Linked DNA regions of Homo sapiens: region 2 is linked to region 1. The links come from fine-mapping of genetic effects on gene expression. Tissue or cell type: fibroblasts. Region 1 holds a variant in brackets; the other region holds the start of a gene. All regions are shown on one strand. Distances are between the middles of the regions.

What was found. PIP is the estimated chance that this variant, and not a neighbour inherited with it, causes the effect.
Region 2: RASSF8 starts here. The variant in region 1 is fine-mapped to the expression of RASSF8 in fibroblasts (GTEx, PIP above 0.99).

Annotation. Positions count from the first base shown.
Region 1 is chr12:25,825,005-25,835,213 of GRCh38, forward strand. No RefSeq gene overlaps it. Among named protein-coding and RNA genes, the nearest start is that of MIR4302, 44 kb to the right of the region's middle. The variant G/A (reference allele first, on the strand shown) is at 4,503.
Region 2 is chr12:25,953,265-25,963,473 of GRCh38, forward strand. RASSF8 (Ras association domain family member 8) reads left to right here and starts at 5,418. Exons shown (of 6, transcript NM_001394098.1): 1 at 5,418-5,884. It overlaps RASSF8-AS1 (RASSF8 antisense RNA 1), which reads right to left and starts at 6,178. Exons shown (of 4, transcript NR_038228.1): 1 at 6,062-6,178; 2 at 3,375-3,500; 3 at 2,963-3,083; 4 at 1,390-1,977. RefSeq lists silencers at 5,030-5,519, 5,620-5,719, 5,790-5,839, 5,980-6,029.

The DNA of each region.
Region 1 (10,209 bases):
ACTCTCCCTAACATTTGTCAAAGTGCGTTAGCAACTAATGCTTCATTCCCAGTAATATTTTGAAAATTTCCCTGATGTTAGAGTGAAGGGCCTTTTTTCCCCCATCTGCAACACCCCAATCTTAACAGCCCACCATGCATTTTTGTCTAAGTATCACACCAAGGCCACATTATATTCCTGTGCCCAACAAACTAGAATATATGTAAATAAACAAGTAGAATAAAATATAAGCCACAAGATCATGAAAATTTAGAATGAAAATTTAGATGGGGTTTATTTATTTCATAACTCAGCCAGGAGTTCCATTTGCCTAGACATAAGAGATAACATCTTTATCTATTGTTGTGTGACAAATTTTCACAAACTTAGCAGCTTATGGCAACGTGGATTAATTATCTCACATTTCTGTAGGTCAGAGTCGGGTGGTCTTGGCTGGGTTCTCTGCTTAGAGTCTTATAACGCTGAAGTCCAAGTGTCAGCTGGCTGAGCTCTATCTGGAGGATCTAGGAAACAATCCGCTCCCAAGTGCATTCAGGTTATTGGCAGAATCCAGGTCCTTGTTACAGTAGAACTGAGGTTTCCATTCCCTTGCAGGCTGTCAGCCAAAGGCCATTCTCAGCTTCTAGAGACCACCGGCGTTCCTCATCATGGCGCCTCCTCCATCTTCACGCCAGCAACATCCTGTGAAACCCTTCTTTTGTTTCATGTCTCTCTGCCTCCCTCTTCTGCCACCAACAGGAGAAAGCTCTATGCTTTTAAGGGCTGATGTGTTTAGATTAGGCCTACCTGGATAATCTCCCTCTTAGAAAGTTAACTGTGCCATAGAACACAGGTTATGGGAATTAGAGGACATGGAATCGTGGAGGACATGGAATCCTGGAGGACCATTTAGAATTCTGCCTACACACCTAGCAAGTAGAATTAATACAAAAATTAGCTGGGTGTGGTGGCGGGCGCCTATCATCTCAGCTACTGGGGAGGCTACTCCGGAGGCTGAGGCAGGAGAATCGCTTGAACCCAGGAGGCGGAGGTTGCAGTGAGCCAAGATCGCGCCACTGCACTTCAGCCTGGGCGACAGAGAAAAACTCAGTCTCAAAAAAAAAAAAAAAAAACAAAAATAAAAAATCCTTTTGCTGTATCCTCAAAAGATAAAGGTGTAGTAAGTACCTTTATCTGTAAGTTTTAACAGGCAGAAGCAGTTAGAAATAATACTGAGAATGATGTTTAAATCTCTGCACGTGAAAGTTTAAAAGTTAGACTGAATTGGTCTACCATATGCACACCAAAGAAGTGTATTTTATTTTATTTTGTGTTTGTCCCCCCGATTTTTATTTATTTATTTATTTTTAATTTTGTGGGTACCTAGTAAGTGTATATATTTATGGAGTACATGAGATGTTTTGATATTTGATGTGAAATAAATACATCATGGAGAACGGGGTGTCCATCCCCTCAAGCATTTATCCTTTGAGTAACAAACAATCCAGTTACACCCTAAGTTATTTTAAAATATACAATTAAGTTATTATTGACTATAGTGACCCTGTTGTGTTATCAAATAGTTAATCTTATTCATTCTTTCTCAAAGATGTATATTAAAGAAACAAATTGGCATCCTCCAAAGAAGGTACCAATAATACTTTAGTAACCGATTTTTCTTAATACACAATTTTATAAAATATTCTAAAATATCCCACCTTGTTCTACAAAAAATGTGAGGCCATAATTGTCCTGCTGACCCCACACCTTTAATTTGACAGCCCCTGGATATCTACCCCTTCATTCACAGCCAATGTCTTGCAATTAGCCTTAACCCATCTTGCTCTCACTCTCCTGACCTGTTCCCCAGTTAGTGAGCCTTTAGCACAGCTCCACCTTCTATCCCCGACAGGCTTTTCCAGGATTAACTGCAGTGGTTCTTCCCCAACCAGGTCTGGACTGCTTCTGGCCACTCCATAAGCAACCTGTGAGGAGGTCCAGTCACCAGAGTTTCCCCCTCTCAGCATCACACTGACTGTCAAGGAAACCTTCCCTATGCCCCAGAGATAACTGCTTCTTCCCTGGTAAACTTGTAACTCATGAATTCCCCTTGTTTGCCCTCCCATTTTAGTGAATTTTGTTCTTCCATTTAACCATGATATTAAAGATATTCAATTTATTATTTATTTTACTAATGGCTTATTTAAAATCACTTGTATATATCCCTTATGTTTGGGTCAATATTATCTCTCTTAGATTATGCACCTTCACGGGTGGGTAACAAGGTACCAGCAAGTGTTACAGTGCTTTGTGAAGTATTTGCCCAGGAATGTGGATGATCATGGTGTTGAGATGTTCTGGGTAGATAGTCCCAATTCAATACCATGTATCACACCACATGCCAAAACTTTCAAGGTTAAGATAAGCCCAGGTTTATACATGGGCCATATTGTTGAAAGTTGAGAAGTTGGAAATAAGAATTTTCAGGTGCCTTTTCCTGTATGACTGGAACAAAAGTTGTTCCCATCTAATTTCCTGGAGTGTACAGCCCTTGAGTCCCATAGACTCAAGCCCATCTCAGAGGCCAATGTCAAAAAAATTATTTTTTTCTTGCTGTTGAATATGAATTTTTAATTTTGATTAATAATCGATATATTTGTTCAAGTAAAAGAAAGTCTTCTTCCTCATTCATTGCATTCAATTGTTTTTGTAATGTTGCCAGGTGTGGTTGTACGTGCCTATAGTCACAGCTACTTGAGAGACTGAGGTGGGAGGATCACTTGAGCCTGGGAGGTCGAGGTTGCAGTGAGCTATGATGGCACCATTGCACTCCATCATAAGTAACAGACCGAGACCTTGTCCAAAAAACAAAAAATGTTGACCTCTCTTGGCTCTCTAAATTTAAATACAAACCTTGTGAATTTCCATACTGTTTTTAAAACGGGGGGACTTTAATCAAAGCAGAAAACTTTGCTTCAGAAATAAATCTTGGGAATGTAAACATAAGCATATTTTATCCTTTTTGTTAATAAAAAACATTTCTAAGTACTGTAGTCTTGGCTACAGACTGAAAATAGTCTCTAACATCTTTTAAAATGTTTTGTTTCTTTTTTACTCTATGTCATTAGGTACATTATCTTTGATTCCAGATAACAAAAGTGAAGCAGTACGACAGTGAGGGAATCATTTTCTGATATTTCCAGGATCATCACAATCAACTCGGGGAACTCAGTGTGCAGAAGCCCTGCAGGAGGGAAGGGGCTGTCACTCATCAGTGGTGTCATTCAGACCTTTGCCCCGGACTTCACCGGCAAAATCCCTGTCAGGTCTTTTTCCCTCCTTCTGGATTCCAGTTAAAGTTTGTGGCCAAAATATGCAGTGACAGATGGCTCATGTCATTGCTGTAATGTCAGCCTTTGGGTCTCCGAGGGGATGACTCCAGGAATAGAAAGTGGAGCACATACAGGAGTGGATGTAAAACAGAATCTAAGACAAGCAGGGTCCTCCAGTTCTCAGAGGAATCAGGAACTTCCCTTCTAAACTCATCTAACAACAGGGAGCAGCCCCTTCTCTCTCTCAATGTGCATAGACTGAGACTTGTGCATAGACTTGTGCATAGACTGAGACTTGGGTTCGGTACCTCCTCTGAGCCTTAGCAGCTTGATTTTGAACCTGCTCCTCAATTTTCTCATAAGTAAAATGGGCATCATCATTGTACTTATCTTCTGAGATTCTTGTGGGGTCTAAATAACATCTGAAATGAATTTAGCTAAGTGCTCTGCCCTAGCTAAGCACTCAATAAATGGTAATGCTACTTTCCTCCCACTATTAACTTGGTTTTATATGAAAAAACAATGCATAATTTAACATAAAACAAGAGGCAAAACATAGAAACCCTACTAATTGAAATGTTGTTTTGTTAAAATTCCCAATTCAGATGGGACTTAGACTAAATTAGACTAAAGCCAGCATTTCATTGTGTTATTATAGAACCAGAGGGTTTTCCCACTGAAACAGGCCTGGAGAGACAATTAGTTTTTCATTTCACAGTTGAGGTCTCTAAAGCTAAGAGAGATTGTGGTCTGCCCATAGTTAGATCTAAGAAGCTTCCCTGATAAAATTTCCCATGTTGACCATTGGAATTGGCTCTAATTTTCCATTTTTGTTTGCTTCCTTTTTTGAGAAAACATGTAAAGTTTTCTATCACATGCATTTACAAAGCTATAAGTTATGAAGGATCCTGTTTTTCTCTAATTTGGTATATCCTGATCTTTTCCCTAGAGGTCTGTGTTGGTGCTGCTGTTTTCCAGTTTGTCAGTTTGTCTTGGCATCAGTGCCTCACCATTTGGCACCTGACTCAACATAGTTTTACCACCATTATCTAAACAGTACCACCCCATCTGAATGTATTTCACAACTGGTCGTCTCCGTGCCATGCCTCTGCCTGGGTCTGCTTTCCATTACGTTACCCAACCATCTGCTCCAAAAGAATGTCAGGAGGAAGTGATGCTGCTTTGTGCAGT[G/A]TGTTAAAATCTTGACCTTTACTTGGGTTTAGTCACTGTGCATCACTGGATTCCTAACTTTTTTTCTTCAAGATTCTTTCCACACTGAGAGCCACGCAAAGTTCATCAGATTCATATTTTCTGAAATATCCTCATAAGCCTCCTCACCTATGATTAATTTGAGTGTAATACCAATTATAGTTAATTACTGGGTGCCAGAATCTTTACATACATGACTTTTAATTCTTATAATAGCCCTATGTGTTCCGAAGTGCTATTATCCCTGTTTTATGGATATAGAAACTGAGAATCGGGGGATTTAACTGACTTCCCCAAGAACCCACAGTAAGTGGCTGCCTTTCCCACTAAGCCAAGATGCCCAGGAGGTGCCTTTGAAGGGCACAACAGTTGTTCTCAAATGTTGGCATGCATAAAGTTGCCTGGCATTATTAAAAGTACACCCCATAGAAGCTGGGTGCAGGGGCTCACACCTGTAACCCCCACTACTCAGAGGACTGAAGCAGAAGAATCACTTGAGCCCAGGAGTTCAAGTCCAACCTGGGCAACATAAGGAGAGCCCCTTTCTTTAAAAAGTGTAGCTCATAGAGTCTATCGCTTAAATTCCAGGCTCTTTTCCCCAATTCTGATTCCATGGGTGGACCCAGGCTCTGTTTTTTCTGCACACTTTCCTGGAGATTCTGATGCAGACCATCTGTGCAGCACATCAGCTCAGGTGAGCCACAGCTTGGCTCTGCATCCCCAGCTATGCACCAGCTCCAACTGAAGCACCACATTTCCTCCCTTCCTTCTGCTTAAAGCCATAAATTAACCAAGTGCTGAGATTCGCTTTTATAATAAAACGTAAGCTCAATGAGGTTTTCCGGAATTCAGGTTTTGTTGGAGGCAGACATCTAGCCTGGGGATTAATAGAACTGGTTTCTTTGTCTCTTCCCCTTACTGACTTTTTGTATGTCATTTGATAAAATAACCTCATTGTGTTTTTATTCTTCTCCTCTGTAAATGGAATGTGAAAATCCATGTCTACTACACACCATAAAAGACTCTAAGGAGGAAAAACGTATCCGTGAGAGTTGCACGCAAATCTCCATGCAGAGATCATGGTGTGAGTCCTCAGGATCAAATTACTCTCTTATACGTGTTGGACATGTTGATTTAATCATGGTTGCTATTTACTTCACAAAATACAAGGGATAACACATTTGGTTGGAATTTGTGAGACTTGAACGCACTATCTTGCAATGCACGGGTTTTGTACTCTTGGGAGAGTTATTTATTGTCTATGTACCTCATCGTCTTAGTGTGTGAAATGAAAATAGTAATACTATTATCAACTTCATGGGGTTGTGTCACTTAGTGCTTTGCATAACTGAACTATAACAAATTGCTTAGTCCAAATATTTTCATTCTCAATAGCCTGGCTTCAAATTATTGACAATATCAGCATATTCATTCTTAAGTACGTGCTATACTTGCTGCAATATTAGGTGCTACAGAAAACAAATATGCCATTGTCCTTGCTCTTAGGAGAGTTACATTGAAGTAGATGGATGCTCTTACCTGATACCTAAAGCAACTGACTTGGGGGGGATTTTTGCCATGTGTAGTTAAGGATGAAAAGCCAGATGCAGAAAAATATATATAATATAATGTTAGTTTTTAAAATCATGACCAAGTCTCCCTTTTTTTTTCTTTTAGAGACAAGGAGTCTCTCTGTTACTCAGGCTGTGGAGTGCAGCGGTACAATCATAGCTCACTCCAGCTTTGAACTCCTTGGGCTTAGGTGGTCCTCCTGCTGTAGTCTCCTGAGTGGCTGGAAGTACAGGTGCATGCCACCATACCTGGATAATTTTTTATTTTTGTAGAAACAGCGTCTCACTATGTTGCCCAGGCTGGTCTTAAACTCCTAAGCTCAAGTGATCCTCCTGCCCCAGCCTCCCAAGGTGCTGGGATTATAGACATGAGCCACTGTGCCCAGTCCCCATATTTTTATATGTATATATAATATATACAGATATAAAATATGTATAATTTATATTATATATAATGTACTAAATATATGTGGATATATTATACATATGTATCATTAATATATGTTGTTTAGGACAGAGAATAAAGGAATAAAGAAAAGGAGAGACACAAGGAAAAATCACAAGTAAACAACAGTTAAAAAATTACAGGACTGTTCATGGTAAAAAAAAAAGAACATATATGACATGATTACATTCAAATAAATTAGTATCTGTCTGTGTGTGTGTACATAAAGCAAAGCACAAAAACATAGCCAAATGCTAACAGTGTCTAAATCAAGGTAGTGAGATTTAAGTGATATCAACTCTTTTTCTGTATTGTTAGACTCTATAACAACAAATGTGATTTGTAATAACTAAAAACCTTTTAGGGAAGACAGACTGTGCCAAATATATTTATTATTGTACATAATACATTGTTTTATCTTTTTAAAATTGTCTCTAACAGGTATGAATTACTTTTGAATGGGAAAATATGTTATTCTTTAAACAAATATTCTCAGTAATCATAAAATGCAGTGGAACAGAGTTATTCTAAATGGAAGGTCAAATCTCCTTCAGTTACCCAAATAAAGTAAAGTGCACAATGAATTTGCTCTGCAAGAAAAAAAATTGTTACTGAACTCTTTTTTTCCTTCCTTTTTTTCCTTCTGTAGACGTTTCAATTATGTAATTCCTAGATTTGTTGAAATAATTTCATTTTTAAGACAACTTTACAATATGATTTGACTTCTGTTTTTCCAACTCATTATTATTTTCTACAACTCCACATGTCCCAAACAGAGCTCATTAGCTTCTCTTCCACCTTAACCTACTTCTCTTCCCATCTCCCTTTCAAGAGGAATGTCACCACCATCCTCCAGTCACCCAAACTGGATATCTGGGAGCCACCATGGATATCTTGCTCTAGTTCTAGGCCCTCTGCAGGCAATGAGTCAATCATTTCTGTAGATGCTACATCCTAATATGAGGTCTCTCCTTATCACACCACTTCTTCTCCATAGCTATTGTCCTCATTGGTCCTACCTAAATTGTAGCAATTATCTTTAAATCAGCCCCCCGTCTCCACTTTGAAATTTTGATCAAGTAACACCACAGAAGAATATTCAAACTTCTTCACTTACTATGCAAACAGTTATGAGTTGTCTGCCTAGATTCACATCCTTCAAAGAACCAACCTTCTCCAAAATCTGTCATCCTGGGGGCTGTCAGTCACGGTACCCTCACTCCCCATCATATTATAAGCCAGACAATGAGAGTGCTCTCTCCCCATAGGCTCAGTGATTGCTTCAGAGTTCAGAGATGGGCATATGTAAAAGAAGCATCAAGCATTCTGCCCCAAATCTTTTCTGCTAGAGTTAGAGGGACAACCCTCTCTTGTTTTTGGTGGGTTACTGATTAATTTAGCAAACTCCTTTGTAAGACTTATTTCCTTGAACTTTCTGGGAAAGCTCTAGTGTGGAAACACAGAGCAAGAGAATTATTTTAGTCGCCCTATAAATAGGACATGGATTTTCATCCAGTTTAGGAACCAATCTCAATTCTAGAAAGGTAGCCATGTTATGTGGTGCTTTATGGTGATTTCTACATTATTATAAATGTGGTGGCTCCAAAAAAGGGAAGCTATTAATTCCAACTATATTTTCAACTAGGATATAAATGTCTTTAGGTTTTTACAACGTATATTATACAACTGCCATAAAATTATCTACTTTTCTGTTCTTTTTGTTGATTAATAATAGGCATAAAATTACACATAGCTGAAGTATACAATTCAATGCATTTTCACAACTGAATGCAACTTTGCTACTGTATCTTTTTCATGTACATAACTAAATTTTAAGATAGCTAAGGTCAGGACTATGTTTTCACTTTCCAAAACACCTAGCTCAGTCCTAGGTCCAGCAATAATGCTGCCCAATATTGATGTTGCTGTCTTTTACTTACCAGACAGGTATTGTGTACCAGAAAGTCACTGGGTGTAAAGGTAGAAAGACTACTTCAACATAAATTCATGTAAAACAATAATTATATTAATCTCTAACAATTATCAAGGATTTAGAGGTTTTATTATTATTTCTGTTTTACAGATTAGGAAACTGTAATAGACAGAGATTAAAAAATTGACCAAGATTAATTAGCCAGAAATAGAAGAGCAAGACCCCAAGATAAAACTTAATTTCCAAAAAATAATTTAAGCCATGCAGTCTCTCCACTATGATAATTATCTTTTCTTTGAGACTGAGAAAAAACTTAGCCATCTTTCTTAAGACCAAGGAATAGAACACACTTTCTTTAGTAAACATTAGTGATGATTCAGCGTTGGAGGAGGAAAGAAGTTGAAGAAACTGTAGTAGCGTTTAAAATTCTGCAAAGAAGATGGGCAAGACCACATGTTAGAAATGACAGACTTACTTTTTGATTGAAGGCATCTTCCCTTTCTTCCTGGATCCAGATCACCTCTGCAGCACTGGCTTCTTTTCCATGCTGTTGTTGTGTGTAATTGCTATGATCCTTAATTTGGGAGCTCTGCCTGATGGGTGGAATTGTACTTTTGAGTGGGCAGCAGCCTGCCTCTTGTCTCTTGAAATGCCTGTCATTTTATCACAAAGAGATGGATGTGAAAGTGAGATTGTCCTTGAGTCCACTGAGAAGATATCAACCAAACAACTCACAAAATCACATTTATTTAAATTGTTTAAGGTAAGAACATTTTTCAGATTCTTGAATTATATGTTTAAAGTAATCCAAGATTTTTCTTGGAGATAGGCAGTCTGGAAAGCTGTATATTCTACTAAGAATTTTGGATAACATCTTTATGTTCTGACTCAGAGTGTATTGTCAATATTTCTGTTAAAAAATGAAAAACAAGCAACAGGCATTAAGGATTTGGTAACTAACTTTCTTTGGCTATATTTTTACTTAATATAGCTAAGACAAAGAAAATTTTAGCGACACTTTAAACAAAATTATTTAAAGTGAAGACAATAATATATATGCTAATTTGATGTCACTGCCATGTAATGCTCTAAATAGTACAATAGAATTGACATATTTGATTCTGAACTAGTGGAGACTACACATGAAGAATATGTAGATTATGAATCTGTAGACAAGGAAGATAAGGTAGAATTAAAGAATGATTTTGGAATTCTCTTATAATTAAAGTTATGCATCACTTTAGTTTTGAGAGCAAAAAGAAGTCTAAGTATTTAAAAAATTATCTTTTTAAAGTAAGATTTCCATTTTTTCATTACTAAAAAAAGTATGACAGTTGTGAAAGACAATGTTAATTCACACTAGGGAGAAACATGGCCTTAACCTTTCACAAATATGTTGGTCTTTCTACCTCTGTTAATGAATGTCTTTCAAACCAAACAGTAGAAGCACAGCAGCCATACCAGTGTGTGATTGTTTTAATAATTTGATGACCTGAAGAACAATGAAAGGGTGATAACTCCACTAAGCTATCAACCCAAACTGCCCTGCATATAGCCCTATAAATTACCAGGAAAGTTCTATTTTTCCCCATAACATATTTTTGTAACAAATGTTCTTGGTGGATTGGGTGGAGAAGAAGGCAGAATGAGTCTGCAATTCTATTTAAGACTTGCATGGTGATAGAATTTTAGAGCTTGGAGGGACTTTAGAAGTCATTTCATCTAAGTCTCTCATTCTAC
Region 2 (10,209 bases), 130 kb after region 1:
TTTTATATGTACTTCCTAAAGTGCAGTGTTGTTCATTTGGGATGTTCCACCATAACTTTAGATTACCTTTAGTAAGATTTCACCATTTCTGTAAGTGTTTGCTGCTTCCAGGGCCTATACCTCATACAGGTATACGTAGGTGTAGCCAGAAGGTAGAGCACTCAGTTCCGCAGAAATTAAGGATTTCTTTATTTATTTATGTATTTATTTATGAGATGGAGTCTCGCTCTTTTGCCCAGGCTGGAGTGCAGTGGTGCAATCTCAGATCACTGCAACCTCTGCCTCCTGGGTTCAAGTGATTATCCTGCCTCAGCCTCCAAAGTAGCTGGGATTACAGGTGCCCACCACCACGCCTGGCTAATTTTTGTATTTTTAGTGGAGACGGGGTTTCACCATGTTGGCCAGACTGGTCTCGAACTCCTAAGGTCAGGTGATCCGCCTGCCTCAGCCTCCCAAAGTCCTGGGATTACAGGCCTGAGCCACCACGCCTAGCCCAAGGATTCCATTTTTACGTTGAATCTTGTATTTGGCTCTCAGATCCCCTTGATTAACTTGACTAATGATTTTTCCTGACCGAAGCACACAAGAAAAAGAAACAAAGGGTATAGAACATAAAATTCCTTGTGAGTTTCTTAAAGCCAGAGTTCATACCCCTGCAGTATTGTTATTAAAATATTTACTGGCGGTTTCTATCTGACCCAGTCAGATAACCGAGGCATCTAACTGGATCCAAGCCAGTTAATTATCAGATCCAATCAAATCCTGGACCCAGTCCAATGTCTATCGACTTCCAAACTCAGCTAAGATCAAAAATTTGCTCAAGCAAGCTTGAACAGCTGAAAACGGCAATGTATGGAGCTTCAGAATCTGAGAGAGAATGCAGCCACAATCTCCAGTTGCTGTAAGAGAGCAGTGGACACTGCGAGAGGACGGGCCCAGCAGGTACCCCTTGTGGTCACTCAGTGCTCCTGGGGGATCACTGGGAGCTCTACTTTGGGGTCCATTTCTGACACCATCTGTTAAAAGAAAAACTTCAGACAAATTAAATTTAGCAGAGCTCAATTGAACAAAGAATGACTTGTGAATCAGACAGACCCCTGAACCAGGATAGCTTTGGAGTGACTCCAGTGCTGCTGAGTGGTTGGAGAGAATTTATGGACAAAAAAGGAAAGTGACCTAAGAAAACAGAAGTAAGGTATAGAAACAGCTGGATTAGTTACACCATGACATTTCCCTTATTTGAGCATGGTTTGAACAGTTGGCCACCTCTGATTGGCTGAAACTTGGTGACTGGTACAAGAGTAGGTTACAATCTGTTTAATCATTGGGTTATAGTTCACTATGTATGAAGAACCTTTAGGTTAAACTTAAAATATTGAAGGAGGCAGCTTTAGGGTAAATTTAACACTAGGAAGCTGTAAGTAGTTTATTATGGGTGATACACAGAGTCGGGCAAGAAGGGGGGCAGAGGTGGAAAGACGGGTGAGACCAGGTAATAAAGAATCTTATGTTATATTCATAAGTCCATAATTTATTCCTGCCAGCACCACATACCTATTTGTTTAAAAATTTCATTTCCATAGCCCCCCTAGACTTCCTCATGAAGGAATTTCCTAAGACTTTGACCTTGATGAATTCTGATTCATTGACAATCCCTTCTTTATTTTCTTATTTTTATTTTTTCACTTTCTTATGGTCCTGAGACCACTCCTTTCTGAGTACAAGCATCTTGGCTGGCCTAGAATATAGTCACAACTGTGTTCCACGGACTTTACTGAAGGTGGAAACAACTGTCTTCCCAGCATCCCATCTGTACTGGTCCATTTGCATTGCTATAAAGGCAATTTATAATTCACAGTTTATTATGGCTCACAGTTCTGCAGGCTTATAGGAAGCATGGGACGAGCATCTGCTCCTGGTGAGGCCTCAGGGAGCTTCCAAACATGGTGGAAGGCAAAGGTGGAGTTGGCATATCACCTGGCAAGAACAGGAGCAAGAGAGAGAGGAGGAAGATCACAGACTCTTTTAAACATCCAGATCTTTCATGAACTCATTACTGCAGGGAAGGTACATAGCCACACAAGAGATTCCCCATCACCCAAATACCTTCCACTAGGTCCAACTCCAACATGGCGGTCACATTTCAACACGAAATTTGGAGGGAAAAAACATCCAAACAATATCACCATCTTACAGGCTGGTGTTGTCTGGTGGGCTGTTTGGGAAATACTGGTCTAGACACATTTCTCAAACTTGGCAATATGACTCCACTGGACATTAAAAAGGGATTTCCAGGTATTTCAAGATAAAGGGATTTATTCTCAGGAGCTGCAAACATAAGCTAGGTTTTCTTACAGTGTTAACATCTTGGTTTCAGTTACACGGGTCACCAGATTGATACAGATTTAGCTGAGGTAATAAATCACTGCTTCAGCAATCTTAACAGTCAAGTCAGTTATCTAACGATGATTTGACAAGTAATGAGGTCACCTGCCATTTCCTCCCATAAGTAATTCAACTGCATTTAGTTCATAATACATATGGCTAGAAAAGCATCTAAATCAATTCCTACGATCAGAGAGAGAGATGTCCCCATCACCATGAAGCAGAAGTTACAAAGAAATGGGGGAAGATGCTATGCAGTTGGCCTTAAACATAGAGAAAGGGACTATAAGCCAAGGAATGCAGGTGGCATCTAGAGGCTGAAAAGGGCAAGGAAATGGATTCTCCCCTCGATCCTCCAGAAGGAACACAGCCCACACTTTGATTTTAGATTTCTGACCTCCAGGTCTATAAGATGATCAATTCATCTCTCGATATGGCCTCCTCCTGTTCATTGCCACTGCTCTCCAGTTTAGACTCTCCCTTGGATCTGCCTCTTTTCTGAATCCATCCTCTCAAGTTGTTTTCTTAAAAATCAAATCTTATTATGTCACAGGGTTTGAAGTGCATGAATACTCACTGACTCTAGTTAGGCTCCTTTCCTGGAATATCATTAGAAACCAGAAGTAAGGGTTGTTTACAATTCCCATCAAGGACATTTGGTGTGATCTCAGGAAGGCTTAACAGGGATGTGATTATAGCTACCAAAAAAAAAAAAAAGCTTAAAACAAATTGTACTACACTCTGAAGAAAGAACGCATTAACCAAATGGGCTAGGTAGGGTAAAGATTTTTCTGCACTTATCCAGCACTGAATGGAGGCAAATTCACTGACTTTGGCAGCCATCAGTAAGACTGGAGGTGAGGATACCTGGATTTTTAGGAAGGGTTTTTCCTAAATAGTAGGTATTGTTATCCAATCAGGAAGTTCTGTCCTGATATAAATGCTCATCATATAAGAGTTAGTTATCAAGAGTCAGTCAACTTGCTCACCTCTAGATGTGGTAATACTGAGGTCCAGATCCTCCTGGTGATCAACACAAACTGGATTAAGAGTCAGCTACTCAGTCAGATCCTGAATCCTGGTCCAACGATAACCACACTCTTGCCTGCTACCTGCTTCAAGAAGTACACAAAAGAGGGATCACTACCACAGCCAAAGAAAGGAGGAAAGTTTTTTTTTTTTTTTTTTTTTTTTTTTTGAGATGGAGTTTCGCTCTTGTTGCCCAGGCTGGGGTGCAATGGCGTGATCTCGGCTCACTGCAACCTCTGCCTCCCAGGTTCAAGCGATTCTCCTGCCTCAGCCTCCCAGTTGCTGGGATTGCAGGCATGTGCCACCATGCCCGGCTAATTTTGTATTTTTAGTAGAGACGGGGTTTCTCCATGTTGGTCAGGCTGGTCTCGAACTCCCAACCTCAGGCAATCTGCCAGCCTTGGCCTCCCAAAGTGCTGGGGTTATAGGCATGAGCCACCGCGCCCGGCCAAAAGGCAGAAAGTTCTAAGAAGGAGAGGTCAACATTGGCAAATGCCACAAAGGGCACAAGATGGGAATTAAATTTTTCCATTAGATTTGGCAATTAAGCAATGGCTGATGTTGTTCAGTGGAGTGAAAGGCTGAGAAGGGAATGAGAGGTTAGGAAACATTCACCTTAAGGCTAGGCAACTCCTTTGAAAAGAGTCAAGTAGGGTTAAGGGAGGATCCATGCCCTCCAGGTTGACTTTTAAATCATATTCCCTTTGGTTTTGCATTTGAATCACAGTGAACTTTCTCCTCTCCAAATGTTGATTTGACAAATTTGAGTCTTACCATGGCTCTCTTCTCAGTCCACCTGCAGGTCAAGGAACTAATGAGGTGTGGAGTAACTAAAGGTCAAAAAACAAGAGGAAGAAACAAAGGGCCAAAAAACCCCAAACCTTAAATCAGGTCCTGAGTCAGATACGCTGTAACAAATTCTGCTTCAAGTTTAATATTCTTGTTTTGATGATGTTTAAAAAAAGAAAAATAAAAGCAAGTGTCTGGAAAATTAAAAGGCGGGGTGGGGGGGGGCATTTTAATTGGAATGCTTTCTTGTATCTCATCCACTATCCGCACCCCATCGCCCTGCAAATTAATAGCTGTTGCGGAGTTGGGGTATGTGTGACCACAAAATCCAAAGGCTGAATTTTGCCCAGTGCCTGAGTAATTGCATGCCACACACAAAAAAACAGTAGAATATTGAAAACAACATACACATCTGTATTTCCATATGAAAGCACCCGTTTCCTTTCTTGATTATCTGCTATTTTTAAAGGGGTTGGGAGTGCAGCGGGGCGGGGGGATGAGGCGTTTTTTCTGAATACGAGCCCAGCTCTTTCTAAACTTTTGTTACTCACGTCCGTTTGATTCATTTGCTGTGTTTTTTCTTTCTTTCTTTTTTTTTTTCCCCTCTCCTGCCTCTGTCATTGCCTGCTGCTAAGAGGGACGCTGAATCACAGCCACTGCAGATGAAAAGCAATTCAAACCCAGTCCTTGGAGGGGGGATGGAACGGCTCTTTTTGATTTTTTTCCCCTCTGCAGAAAAAGCCTCCTACTTTCCGGGTGACCGTAGAGGGCAGTTTGACAAGTCTCAGCCCCGGGCGATGGAAGATTTTGCCCGTGGGACCGTCACGAGCCACCGGTCATCTCCCCGCGCCCGGCTTTCGGGTCCTCAGGCCTCGGTGCGTCGCGGGCCAGGCGACAGCGGGGGGGCGTCGCGGGCCGGGCGAGCGTGGCCCGGTGGGCCCGAGGGTCGCGCCGAGCTCCCCGCCGCTTTAAAAGCTCCCACAATGCAGCGCTGGCGTCCCAGTTCCGTTACGAGGTCTCTCCCGGCGCCGGCGAGCGGGCCAGGCGCGGGCGGGGCGCGGAGGAGCGGCGGCTGAAACCCGAGCGCCCGGCCGAGGGGGGCGCCCCCGCGCCGCTCCTCTCGCGCGCTCAGCCGCTGCCCGGCGAAGGGGCGGAGCCGCCTGGCCGCCCGGCCCGGCCCGGCCCGGCCCGGCCCCCAGCCCGGCCCCCAGCCCAGAGGCACCGGCCGCGGGAGCGAGCGGGTCGCCGACTCCTACGCCCGCGCTCCTCCTACGCCCGCGCTCGTCCGGCGCCCCGCGCCGCGCCCCGCTCAGCGTCTGCCGCCCAGCTCCTCGCCCAGCCTCGCCGAGCCTCGCCCTTCCCGCCCGCGGCGGCGTTGGCGCTGGGGGCGGCTCCCGCGGCGTCTCTGCCGCTGGCCGAGCGCTCGCGCACCGCGGCACCCCCGCCAGTGGCGTCCACACTCACCTAGCGCGGGCCGGGAGGTGCGCGGAGAGGGAACGCCGGGGGGCCGGGGCCTCCAGCCGGTGCGGGGCGCGCGGCGCGGGGAGCGCCGGGGAGTGCCGGGGAGTGCGGCGCGGGGACGGGCGCTGGGCGGCCGCGGAGCTCCGGGTGCCGCCGCGTCCCCAGCGCCCCGGCCGGCCCCTCTGGGCGGCCTGCGGGGGCGGCGCAGTTGCGAAACTGAGTAAGTATTAACTTTACTTAGCGGCGGCGATCCGGGCTGCGCCGGGGACCCCGCCCGTCCCGCCTGCAGCCTCGGAGCTGCCCTCCGCCCGGTTGCCCCTCTCTCCGCACCTTGGGTACCTCGTCCGTTCCGCCCCCACCCTGCCCCGCCGCGGGCTCCCGCTCCCTCTGCGTTCACCTTTCCTGGTGTGTCACCCTTTGCGCCTCTCCTCGCGGCACACAAGCCGCGGACTGAAAAGTACGAGCTTGGTCTTTGCTTTTCTGCTTCCTCCCAGTGTCCTTGGCAAGGGAGTTTAGAGGCCACTTTTCTTGCAAAGGGAATTTTATGTCTGGTTTTTAAAATATTTTTTCCTCCGGATGGAAATCGGATGCTCGCTTGCCGGGTGGCGGTTTGGTGAACGCTTTTCTCCTCTAAAAAAATATTGGTTTATAGGTTTTTAAATTTCATTTGAACTATTAACCATCTGCATTCTATTCTCCTTTGCCGCCAGTCCCTTTGGGGAGGGGAGTCCAGAAGAGGGGACGTTCAAAGTAATTCTGACTTGCAAACTAGAAAGTTTGAGAGGGTAAATCGCACAAAGCCGGAAGATTCAACTTGAAGGGACGCGAGCTTTGAATGTGGGTCCTGGTGCGGCACTGGGTTTTAAAAGATGAGTACTTGGGTTCGGAATCCAGTGTTGCGTTGTTATTTTAGCATCATAGAGCCGCCTGGTGTTGCTAAACCACTACTTTCCCAGCCTCAAATGGCATCTTGAACAGTGCAACGTAGGATATATAATTGCGGGTCAATATTGTTGCTGATCTTTAGGGATTTAGAAGCGAAATGAATGCAAATCACGTCTCATAGCTGACTTAAACCTGTCAGGTTAGCCCTGTCAGGTTAGCATTAAAGCATTTCATTAAAAAAAAAAATCCTCTAGCCCTGTGACAGCAGGGACGAACATTTATGGATTTTCCAGTAGATTGTGGCTCAGCAATTCATTAGATCTGCTTTGTCCCCAGGAAGCATTTTAAAATATGTATAAATCTCTGCTTTTCTCTCCATTAGATTAACCACTCATTCTGGTAGGGGGCCCCAGGTAGTTTTTATTTTCTTTTTTGCCTTTCATCTTGGAGTTGCCAGGAGTTGCCATCATGTTATGAAGGAACAGAAAATGAGAAGCTTTCTTAATGGGTTTTCGACATCCTGTCCTTTGCCAGAGTGAGGCGGTAGTGAATGCCAGCCAGCTTTCTGCAGGGAGAGGTGCAGGGTGGACGCAAAAATCAGGACGCAGGAGACAGCACTATCATTTGGGGAAGTGGTTTGTGTGAGTTTTATCTTTTAGCGGGCATACTAATGGTACTTTTAATTTTATTTATCTCTATGAGGCACACTCCCCAAACCATAAAATTACACATGACCATCCCCCACTTGAAGAAGACTGAACATAGTTTGATGATTATTCTATTCAAGGATCAAGTACAACAAAATATAATTTGTAATACAGATGATAAAACCTTTCAAAAATCTCCCCCTTCCTCATTTTTTTCCTCAAGAGTCTCCAGGTGGTACTTTCTGTGATGGACACAATTGGCAGTAATGCACTGAGTTCTTTCTAGGTTTATTGATCAAATCTTATGTCTGGGCTTTAGTAGCTTAGGGGTGCATTAGAGGGCCCTGAGAGGGAGCAAATCATGGGGCTGTGCAGGCAGGAAAGGCACTTCACTTTGCAGAAGTGTCAGTGTGCTTCTGGAAAAAACAGTTACAAAGAACAGAGAGTGTTTAAGTTGTTTATAGGATGCATGTTTCCTGAATTTGGCATTTGGTTCAGATATTTGGTAATTACAGATTTAAAATTCGACATGGTTGTATAATTTGTTTTGCCTTTTATTTATTTTTTTAAGGTTGCAACCTTTTAACCTGAATCTTCAGTGTTTGGCTCTTGTAGGCTTCTATACGTGGTGACTTACGTCAGTTTTTGACCTGACTGCCTTGTGTTTTGAGAAATGATTAGTTCTTCAGGGTTTCTGACTCATTAATTGATCTGTTTTATGTTGATGTATATAATGACTTGGAAGTAAAAATATTGTTTGCCGTGGGATATTGTTGTCTTTTTCTTATGGTTAATTCCTGGCATAATGGCTTTGCTCCTTTATTATAAAACATTAAGATCTTAGATATCTTGCTAGTGTTCAAAACATTACAAAACTCTTTGCAAGTAAAAGTGGAGTGGGAATGGGAGTTGGATAGAAAAACATGCATCATAAATTAAAGATTTGGATTACAAAATAATATAACGTTTATTTACTCTTCTTTGATGCTAACTTGCTCTAACCCTAAATAGACTTAAAAATTCAAAGTGTAGAGAGAGTTTCCAAGTATTCTGTATAGTGGAAAGAATGTTTACCCCACTGCCAGCCAGACTTGGGTTGCACGTGTGACTTTGTCACTCCCGAGGTGAGTGAGCTCGGCCATGCCACTTCAGCCTCTGTGATCTACAGTTGCATTTCTGGAAAATGGGGATACCACTACTTAAAGGGATGCTATGGTGAGTAGAACATCTAATATATATTAGATGTGCCTGGCACATTTCAGCCAATAAATGACAACATCTCAAACTCCTTCAGAATTGAGCTCTTGGTCACTCAAACTTTCAAACTGTTCCCCCTCCATTTTTCATCTCATCCATCCAAGGAGTAGCTCACTCCACTCTCTCTTTTCTTCTATCAGCCCTAGCAAACCAGTCCATCATAAAGTCCTGCTGTCCATTTTTATTGCAAAATCTCTTTCAAACCGGTCTGATTTTCAGTCCCCACTATTCTGCCATCCTAATGCAAGCCACTGTACTGTATTATCTTTTTCCTTGGTGCGGTGCCTCCTGCACACACTCTGCACCCCTTGCAGTCTGTTTTACTACCAGCAGCCTGAAAAAAAAAAGAAAAAGTATTTGCCGTCTTAAAGTTGTCAGGGCTCTCAGGAAACACATTTATTTATTTTTGGGATAAGATACCAAATCCTTGACATTACTTCAGGATCCTGCATGATTTGATCTCTACATCCACTTGCATCTCTTGCTGTCATCTTGGCCAGTTCTCCAGCAGACTAGCCTCAGGCCTGTGGCTCATGCTGTTGGTCTCCCTATTTTAGGATCATCTCCTTGAGTAACTTATCATCCTTGGGTGCTAGCTCAAATGTCCTTTCTCATAAAGGTCTTCTCTGACAAGCCCACCCTTATCGTCATGCGAATTAAATGTCCTTTATTTTCTCCCTCATAGCGTAATCACTTTTGCTTCTGAATATTTACCACAATTTATATATTATTTAATCACTTAGGGTCCTTTTCTTGCCCTTTAGGTTAATATGAAGTTGATAATACCTGGTTTAATCACCAGTGCCCAGTATATGTAGTAGGTGCTCAATAAATATGTTGATATAATGAGTAAGATCGTAATATCAGTTTGTATCTTTATCTTTTTTTTTTGAAATGGAGTCTTACTATGTTGCCCAGTTGGTCTTAAACTCCTGGCCTCAAGTGATCCTCCTGCCTCAGCCTCCTGAGTAGCTGGGACTACAGGTGTGTGCCACCATGCCTGGCTTCTGTATTTGTATCTTGATTGCCTTCTTTATCACTGTTAAATTTGCTTTTCATGATAGAAAAGCCAGACCCACACTTTTCTATATTCCTTCTTTGCTGGTTATATGTATAATATGAAACGGCCTTTGCAAATATCAGGTAAAAATGCATGTAGGTTCTGTGAAATATTCGTAGTAATAAATTGAGACACCTTTTAATTAGTGTTACCCTTGTGACTTTCTGTTGTACATAATCCTTTTTCTAAATACATCATTAAAATAATTATTTTTTTATCAGCATAAGCTTACTGAAAGGAAAAAAAATCTTACTGTGCCTTACTATTTTACAGAGCGTCACATGATAACACGTTAGTCAGCTGCTGTCGGCTGGTGGTGCCAGACATCAAAGGAAGATTGGGAAAACTTTAGTAGAAAAACAAGACCTAGAGTTCTAAGGATGCTCAGTGCTGTCCAGCTGTTGATGTGACTTGCATGGTAACCAGACATCACTGGACCATACACTTAAGAGAGAGGAGGAGTTTTTTTTAAAAAAAGTGGGAGCCACCTAGAAGTCTGGAAGTTCTTTTCTTCTCTCTCACTAAAGCATTCCTTGTTTTAGCCAAAAAAAAAAAAAAAAAAAAAAGTCTCATGACCTTCCAAGGCCAAGGAAGGCTTACAGCTTTGAGTATTTTTGTCATGTGGTTGCTCTTTACGAAATATTAGCTTGATGTCCTCTAACTCTGAAGTACTTATGTCTGTTATTGATGTTTGTA